Linked DNA regions of Homo sapiens. The protein of the gene in region 1 purifies or fractionates together with the protein of each later gene. This does not show direct contact. Each region holds a gene or a part of one and is shown in the gene's direction. Other genes may lie near its edges.

Region 1 (3,965 bases):
ACTCCGATGAGTGTCGTACCTTGGATTCCCGGCCAATGCAACAAAATGGTATGGCTCTGATGACTGGAGGAACACTAGGGTCCTTGGTCTCCCACTGGTTTGAATAAAACAACATGGGCACACGTGGAGTGGTTTTAAGGAGTGGAGAATTTAATAGACAAGAAAGAAGGAAGGAAGAGGCTCCCCCTGTTCTGAGACTGAGGGAGGCGGGCTCCAAGCTGAAAGAGGGAACCTCGAGTACGGTGGAAAACAGCCAGTTATATGAGGAGGCTGGAGGAGGCGGTACCTGATTTGCATAGGGCCCAGGGGATTGGTTTGACCAGGTATGTCATTCAAGTAGCCCACGAAAAAACTAGCCTTCCTACCCTAGCCTTTTAATATGCAAATACAGGCGCCATGATGTTCTACACACATGGGTGTATGTAGGGGCGGCCATGTTGCCAGGAACGTGGGGAAAAGAAGAAGAGGCGGGAGTCTCCATGTTTGGGTGGACGCAGTTTCTAATGGCCTGTATTTGCATATCAAAGCTTGCCTGCCCAGCTCTAAGAGCCAGGGCTTTTCTTCTAGACAAGAAACATTTATGGAGCTGCTTTAAAAGAAAAAAAAATCTTCCCAAGCACCCCTTTTCCTATCTACCTAAAATAATTTCTTAATAACTCCTATAACAACAACAAACATTATGAGCCCAGTTAATAGATACAATAACTGAGGCACAGAGATGTTGATTGCATTGTCCACAGTCACGCAGCTTGTAGGTGGTGCTCGTGGGGTTAGAGCCAGGTCTGTCTGACCCAACAGTCTGCATGTTTATGCACTTGGCTATAACACCTGAACAAATGCATGTTCAGGTGTGCCCAGCATGACCCATCCGACATCTGAGTTGGGTGTTCACTGTGGTATAGAACAGCTCTGAAATTGACTCCCAGAGTGTTATACCCCTTGGACCCAAGGCCTGCTAGGCCAGACGCCCCCCACCCCACCCCTTCTGCAGACGTATCTCCCCCTACCCTAAAGACCCTGCACAGTCCCCTCCCTCCTCTTTTTTACATAGTGACGATGCTTAAGCCCTGTGGCGCAGCCCTGCCAAAAAATGACACCTCTTTCGTTTAATAATTAAAAGCAGGAACTACCCACTCTATAAAAGGAAGTGAATGAGTAAGAAAGTCAAAGGCGGTCTAGATGTGCAGAAGGTGCAAGCCAGAGCTCAGGCAGAACTTCCAGAGTGCATCTGGGATCTGCATTTGCCACTGGTTGCAGATCAGGCGGACGAGGAGCCGGGAAGGCAGAGCCATGTGGCTGCCCCCTGCTCTGCTCCTTCTCAGCCTCTCAGGTGAGTGGGGCTGGGGCCTTGGGCGCTTGGTATGACAGGGGCAGGGCAGGAGGCAGAGGGCATTTGTCCTTCCACATCCAGGGAAATGAGAGGTGGCTTTGTGAAGTCATTCGACAAAGGTGCACTGGGGACTGACATCGTGTGCTTCGGGGCCTGAGGACATCAAGAAAAAAGAGGAGGAGAACTGGCCATTAAAGAAGACTCCAGGCTTGAGGCCATGGCTCACACCTATAATCCTAACACTTTGGGAGGCCAAGGTGGGAGGATTGCTTGAGTCCAGGCGTTTAAGACCAGTTTGGGCAACATGGTGAGACCTCGTCTCTATATAAAATGAACAAAAATTAGCTGGGCGTGGTGACCGTGCCTGTAGTCCCAGCTACTTGGGAGGCTGAAGCTGGAGGATCCTTTGAGCTCAGGTATTCAATTCTGCAGAGTTATGATCGCACCACAGCACTCCAGCCTGGGTGATACAGTGGGACCTTGTCTCAAAAAAAAAATAAAGTAAAAAGACTCCAGATGGCTTAGTGGGTGAGACATACACATAAACAATGAGCAATTGCAGGACACAATAAGGCATTGGTGGAGGCGTGTGCGGAGGATGAAGCAGTTCTCTCTGGTGACTAGAGAAAGACTCACGAAGCTGTGCACTTGATGTGCCTTGTAGAAGGAAGGTCAGTCTCTGGAGCAGAGCTGAGAGGAGAACACTCTAGAGAGTTGGGTGTGTGTGTGTGTGTGTGTGTGTGTGTGTGTGTGTGTGTGTTGGGGGACCTGGGCAGAGAGATGGAGGCTTAGAAAGAATGGTGGATTCATGCAGAGGGAGCTGTCAGTGTGCAGGATGTCTTGGAGGTGGCGAGTTGGATATGAGGTTGGAAACACAAAAGACAAGATTATGAAGGCCATCCACGCCAGGCTCAGGAGCTGAGACTTTCAAAGAAAAAACTTCTCAAGAACCCAGGTGGAAAGTGGGAAGGGCTAGATGATCTTCTCCATGGCAAACCTTGGTGGACACCTAGAGGGCATTAGGGGACAATCTAGAATTTTACGCAGGGTGTGCAATGTGTGTGGGCCACACAGTTTTCTGCTGGTGCCTAGGGACTGACCATCTGGCACAGATAGAGCAGTCCACGGAGGGACAACAGGAAAGAGCATGGCTGGGGAGTTCTGAGACCCGACTCCAGTCCTGGCTGGACTTCCACCCTTCAGCCCGTTCAACGGGGCTCTGCTCCAAGCTGACGGCTGCCCTGTCATTTCCATCTCTATCGTTCCTCATACCAACTCTTGACAACATATAGAAGCCTGATTAATAGTTCCAGCCATCATATTCTGTGGTTAGAGAAACCCCCAAATATTTTTTTAAACGGGACTAATTACATCGTGAGCCATTTACAGTTTGAATGACTGAAGCTGGGATTGATGACACTTTGTTCAATGCAGCAGCATCTCTTTTCTGCTGTTAGTGATTGCTGACAAATCCAATTTATGTTTTTGGGTATTTTGTTTTTGTTTTTGTTTTTTGTTTTTGAGACGGAGTTTCACTCTGTCACCCAGGTTGGAGTGCAGTGGTGCAACCTTGGCTCACTGCAACCTCCGCCTCCCAGGTTCGAGTGATTCTTCTGCCTCAGTCTCCCAAGAAGCTGGGATTAAGGTGCCTGCCACCATGCCTGGCTAATTTTTGTAATTTTAGTAGAGACAGGATTTCACCATGTTGGTGAGGTTGGTCTTGAACTCCTGACCTCAGGTGATCCACCCACCTTGGCCTCCCAAAGTGCGGGAATACAGGCATGAGCCACCGTGCCCGGCCCCGAAAAGACTTTTAGATGCTCAGGGCAAGTGCAGCTGATGAGGAGGAGGAGACAGTCTCAGTACCCAACTCAGGCAGCAGTATGGAGAGGAAAGCTGAGGGAGCTGTCAGTGTGCAGGACATCTTGGGGGTGGCGAGTTGGATATGAGGTTGGAAACACAAAAGACAAGATTATGAAGGCCATAATCCTCAGGAGAGGAGAGTTGGGGAGGATGCTGCTGGGGCTGGGAAGACCTCTCCAGATGCCACTGCCATGATCCAGGCACAGATGAAGTTCTGACCTGTTGATGAGCTGTCACTGACAGAGCAAACCCCAAATGTCTGGCGTTGGACATACATCCAAGTCTTCTTTTAAATTTAAAAATAAATAATTTTTTGAAGACAGTGTCTCACTCTGTCACCCAGGCTGAAGTGCAGTGGTGGGCGATTATAACTCACTGCAGCCTTGAACTCTCAGGCTCAGGCGATCCTCCCACCTCAGCCCCCCAAGCAGTGGGGACCACAGGCATGCACCACCACTCCTGGCTAATCTTTTGCATTTGCAGACACAGGGTTTCACCATGTTGCCCAGGTTAGTCTGGAACTCCTGGGCTCAAGCGATCCTCCTGCCTCAGCCTCCCACAGCTTTGGAATTACAGGCATGAGCCACCTTGCCCAGCCTACACACATCCAAGTCCTATTACCACCTTCAAAGTAGAGCGTAGCATGACTGTCTTATGAATAAGGAAGCGATACTTGCAGAGGTTAAGCAACTCTGCCAGGGTTTCCCAACTAGTTCAGTGTCAAGTCTTTCTGCATCAAAGCTCACACTCTCTCTGATGTCATGCTGTCCTT
Region 2 (4,178 bases), on another chromosome or scaffold:
CTTTGGGGAGGAATTCAGTTCATGGTTTGACTCTGAAACAAAATTGATAACAGCCCTTTCCGAAAAGACCCACTTCTTGCCTGGGGACCAGTCTGCCTTTGCAGGACTAACAAATTAGCTACAAGTTTAGAAATTACAGTTTAGAGGTCATGCAGCCTCTGGCTCCAAGAGTCTGAACCTCCCCAAATTGCTCCCGGGGGTGACATCACTATTGCAAGCCCTAAGATCAGTGCTTGAGATATTTTGTAGACCCTGCACTCCATGGATCAGCTGACACCACTCAGACCAGTAATTTGGCGCAACCAGTTTTGCCATCACACCCAGGAACAGAAGACATTAAGAAAACCTCACTTCGACCCCTTATGATTCCATCTCCAACCTGACCAATCAGCACTCCCCACTTCCTAAGCCCCTACCAGCCAAATTATTGGTAAAAACTCCGATCCGCAAATGCTCGGGACAACTGATTTAAGTAACAATAAAACTTCAGTCTTCCGCACAGCTGGCTCTGCGTGAATTACTCTTTCTGCATTGCAATTCCCCTGTCCTGATAAATCGGTTCTGTCTAGGCAGCTGGTAAGGTGAACCCATCGGGCAGTTTCAAAAGTGCTGGGATTACAGGCATGAGCCACCGCGCCCAGCCTATTTTTTGTATTTTTTTGTAGAGGCGGAGGGGTGGGGGAGGGTGTCTCACTATGTTGCCAAGGCTAGTCTCGAACTCCCAGGCTCAAGTGATCCTCCCGCCTCGGTCTCCCAAAGTGCTGAAATTACGGGCGTGAGCCACTGCGTCTGGCCCCTTTAAGCCATTGTGAAAAGTGATGATACACGAAAAAAAAGATTTCCAGGGCCGAGAGCGGTGGATCACGCCTGTAATCCCAGCGCTTTGGGAGGCCGAAGCGGGCGGATCACGAGGTCAGGAAATCGAGACCATCCTGGCTAACACGGTGAAACCCCGTCTCTACTAAAAATACAAAAAAATTAGCCGGGCGTGGTGGTGGGAGCCTGTAGTCCCAGCTACTAGGGAGGTTGAGGCAGGAGAATGGCGTGAACCCAGGAGGCGGAGCTTGCAGTGAGCCGAGATCGCGCCACTGCACTCCAGCCTGGGCGACAGAGCGAGACCCCGTCTCAAAAAAAAAAAAAAAGAAAGAAAAAAGAAAAATTTCCAAACAGGGTGTTCCCTTGTTTCACATTCTCTTTGGTGATGGTCCTGCAACAGATTTTGATAATCACTATATTGAGAAACTGCTTCAGATTCGATCTGTTAGGCTGATCATAGTATTAACTACAATTCCCAGCAAGCCGCGGAGCCAACCTGGGCCTCTGCCGGCCTCTGATTGGATACAGTAGCCAGAATGACGACTCAATCAGTGCTTCGGTTGTTGCTTTGCGGCGTTTTCCGCGGGGAAACTGTGTAAAGGGTGGGGAAACTTGAAAGTTGGATGCTGCAGACCCGGTACTGGAAAGTTTCATGTGGGGTGCCGTTGTGGGGAAGTGGGGTTCGCTCATTATTTCCTGCTCCTTCCCTAGGCTCGTGGGTTTCGATATTGGGGGAGCGGAGATTTTCTCTTGGGTGCTGGTCACGCCCCCTTAAGACTCGGGATCGTCACTAAGAACCCCGCTGTGAATTGGGGGAGCTTCGGGCCTTCTTTTGGTGGGGAATGCTTGGAAGCTGCTCATTGTTGGAAAAAGCTCTTTTTAGGGGATTCTGGGTGATGTTTCCGCCTGTTGCTGCCCATCTTCCTCCCCAGCCCCTTCCCGCTTCGGGCAGCCTGTCATTAGGGGAAGTTGAGGGACTCTCCCACTTCAGGTGGTGTTGGAGAGCGTGGAATCTGGAGTCCGGTCCCTGGATTCGAATGCGAGCTTCACACCAATTGTCAGCTGTTTAACTTTGCCCAAGTTTCTCAACTAGTTACCTCAGTATCCTTATCTGTAAAGTGAGGTAAAATATCCGAAGCCTTTGGAACAGTGTGGCACGTAATAAGGGCTCAATAAATATTAGCTAATATTGTTCCTAAACAGTTGTTGAACATCTAACATGAAGAATTTTCTTTTCTTGGTGGTAAGGAGGACAGGGTTCATTCTCCAGGGTTGACCGTCTCCCCTCATGTGCAATACACATACGTGCTTTCGCGCACACATACACCGCAGGAATTTACGTGCTCCGGTGGGGGCAAACAAACTTGCAAGCCATAATAGTATTTTGATAAGATTATCGAATAGATATGTGCGAAGTTGATGAGAACATTGGAGAGGAAAAGACTTGACTCTGGGGAAGGTTTTGTGGAGGGAAGTCAGGGAGACAGGATGCGTGACCTACCAATACACATACCATGTGGCTGGAGGGCAGATCATGTGAGAGTCATTAAATGATGATTGCTGACCTTAAGTACTATGTGCCACGCACTCCCCGAGTCCTTTAACCTCCACTACAGTCATATGAAGTAGTAAATTCATATGACTGTAAAACAAGGGTTTTAAGGAAATTAAGACACTGAGAGGTGAAGTAACTGCCAGGAAGGATAGGAACTGAACGTTGCAATGTGATGTATGAGTGAGAAGGAAGTGAGGGACCAATTTTTGATGTTTTTCTCTGCGACCCTAAGAAGTTTGGAATTTATCCTGTGGTCTACCAGTCCCATGGGAAGTGTTAAAGGATAATCGTGACTTTTTAGGAAGCTACTCAAGGCAGGATTGTGACACTGATCTGACTTTTGCAGGCGAATTTGGGGCTTCTTCCTGTCTGCTTCCATAGCACTTTTAAATAGCAATTGTAATGCTTACTGCATGGCTGTAGTTATTTGTGTGTACCTCTCTTTTCATCTCAACTATGAGTATTCAAAGGGGAGGGAATATGCTTAAATGATTCTTGTACCCCAGACCTCAGCAGGGTGTGTATTTAAATGCCTGTGGAAGGAGTAAATTAAGGAACAAATGAATGGAGTGGCCAGAAACAATATGCAATAGTCCAGGCAAGTGATGGGAGTGGCCCTATTAAGGCAGAAATGGCAGAATTGGTTGTTGTTAAAGTCCTTGTAGTTTAGAATTTATAGTTTTTTGTTTGTTTGTTTTTTGTTTTTGATAGGGTCTCAGTCTGTTCCCCAGGCTAGAGTGCAGTGGCATGACCACAGCTCACTGCAGGCTCGACCTCCTGGGCTCAGGTGATCCTCTCATCTCAGCCTCCTGGGTAGCTAGGACTACTACAGGTGTGCGGCACAATGCCCAGCTAATTTTTGTATTTTTTTGTGGAGACAGGTTCTCTCTATGTTGCCCAGGCTGGTCTCAAACTCCTGGGCTCAAGCAATTTGCCTGCCTTAGCCTCCCAAAGTGCTGGGATTGTAGGCGTGAGCTACCTTGTGTGGCCTATGGTTCTTTTCTTTCTCCTTCTTTTTTTTTTTAAATTGAATTTATCAGTCTAAATGGTGTCATTACTTGAAACTACCTGATCTGAAAAGACACTAGGCAATATTATAGCAGGTATCACTTGGTTTTCTACTGGGGGAAACAAGTCATTGCTAACAAATTCCCATGGAGAGAAATGAGGAGGATGTATTTTTGTTTGTGAGAGGTGTGTATGTATGTATATTGTGTGTGCGTGTGTGTGTGTGTGAGAGAGAGAGATTGATTCAGTCTGATTCAGAGAATTTAGGTGTTAAATAGAAATTTGGGCCATGGTATTGGAAATAAACAAATATATACATTCTCAGTATACATATATTTTCATTCCAAAATGTTACTTCTTTTCTGATAACTATATTGCTTTATTCCTTGGATCCATGAAGAGTTCCTGTTTCAGTTCGTTCCAGAGGATACTTCTTTACCATCTCAATGAGATATACAGCTTCTCCTTTGTATGCATTAAGAGACTCACAGTAATTCTTTTTTAGCTCTGTGAAGATAAATCTTTCATGAGCCTCATTTACCCCTAGCAAGGTACAATAGTGAAATTTAACTGCATGTGAGAATATAAGCAGCTAGTGTAATAAAGAACATTTTGGGCCAGGTCTGATCGCTCATGCCTGTAATCCCAGCACTTTAGGAGGTCAAGGCGAGAGGATCACTTGAGCCCAGGAGTTCGAGACCAGCTTGGGCAACATGGCAAAACCCTGTCTCTACAAAAAATACAAAAATTGGGCAGGCATGGTGTCGACCCTGTCTCTACAAAAAATACAAAAATTAGC

Evidence for each region. The genes of interacting proteins can lie anywhere in the genome.
Region 2: the proteins of CD300LB (region 1) and RAD51B purify together in Homo sapiens (affinity purification with mass spectrometry; one large-scale study listed by BioGRID and IntAct). This does not show direct contact.

What each region holds. Positions count from the first base shown.
Region 1 is NC_000017.11:74,528,676-74,532,640, reverse strand, and holds the start of CD300LB (CMRF35-like molecule 7 precursor), read left to right. Parts: upstream 1-1,165; 5' UTR 1,166-1,179; coding exon of another isoform or gene 1,180-1,290; coding exon 1,291-1,330; intron 1,331-3,965. UniProt on the Homo sapiens protein: Acts as an activating immune receptor through its interaction with ITAM-bearing adapter TYROBP, and also independently by recruitment of GRB2.
Region 2 is NC_000014.9:67,818,401-67,822,578, forward strand, and holds the start of RAD51B (DNA repair protein RAD51 homolog 2), read left to right. Parts: upstream 1-1,378; 5' UTR 1,379-1,453; intron 1,454-4,178. UniProt on the Homo sapiens protein: Involved in the homologous recombination repair (HRR) pathway of double-stranded DNA breaks arising during DNA replication or induced by DNA-damaging agents. May promote the assembly of presynaptic RAD51 nucleoprotein filaments.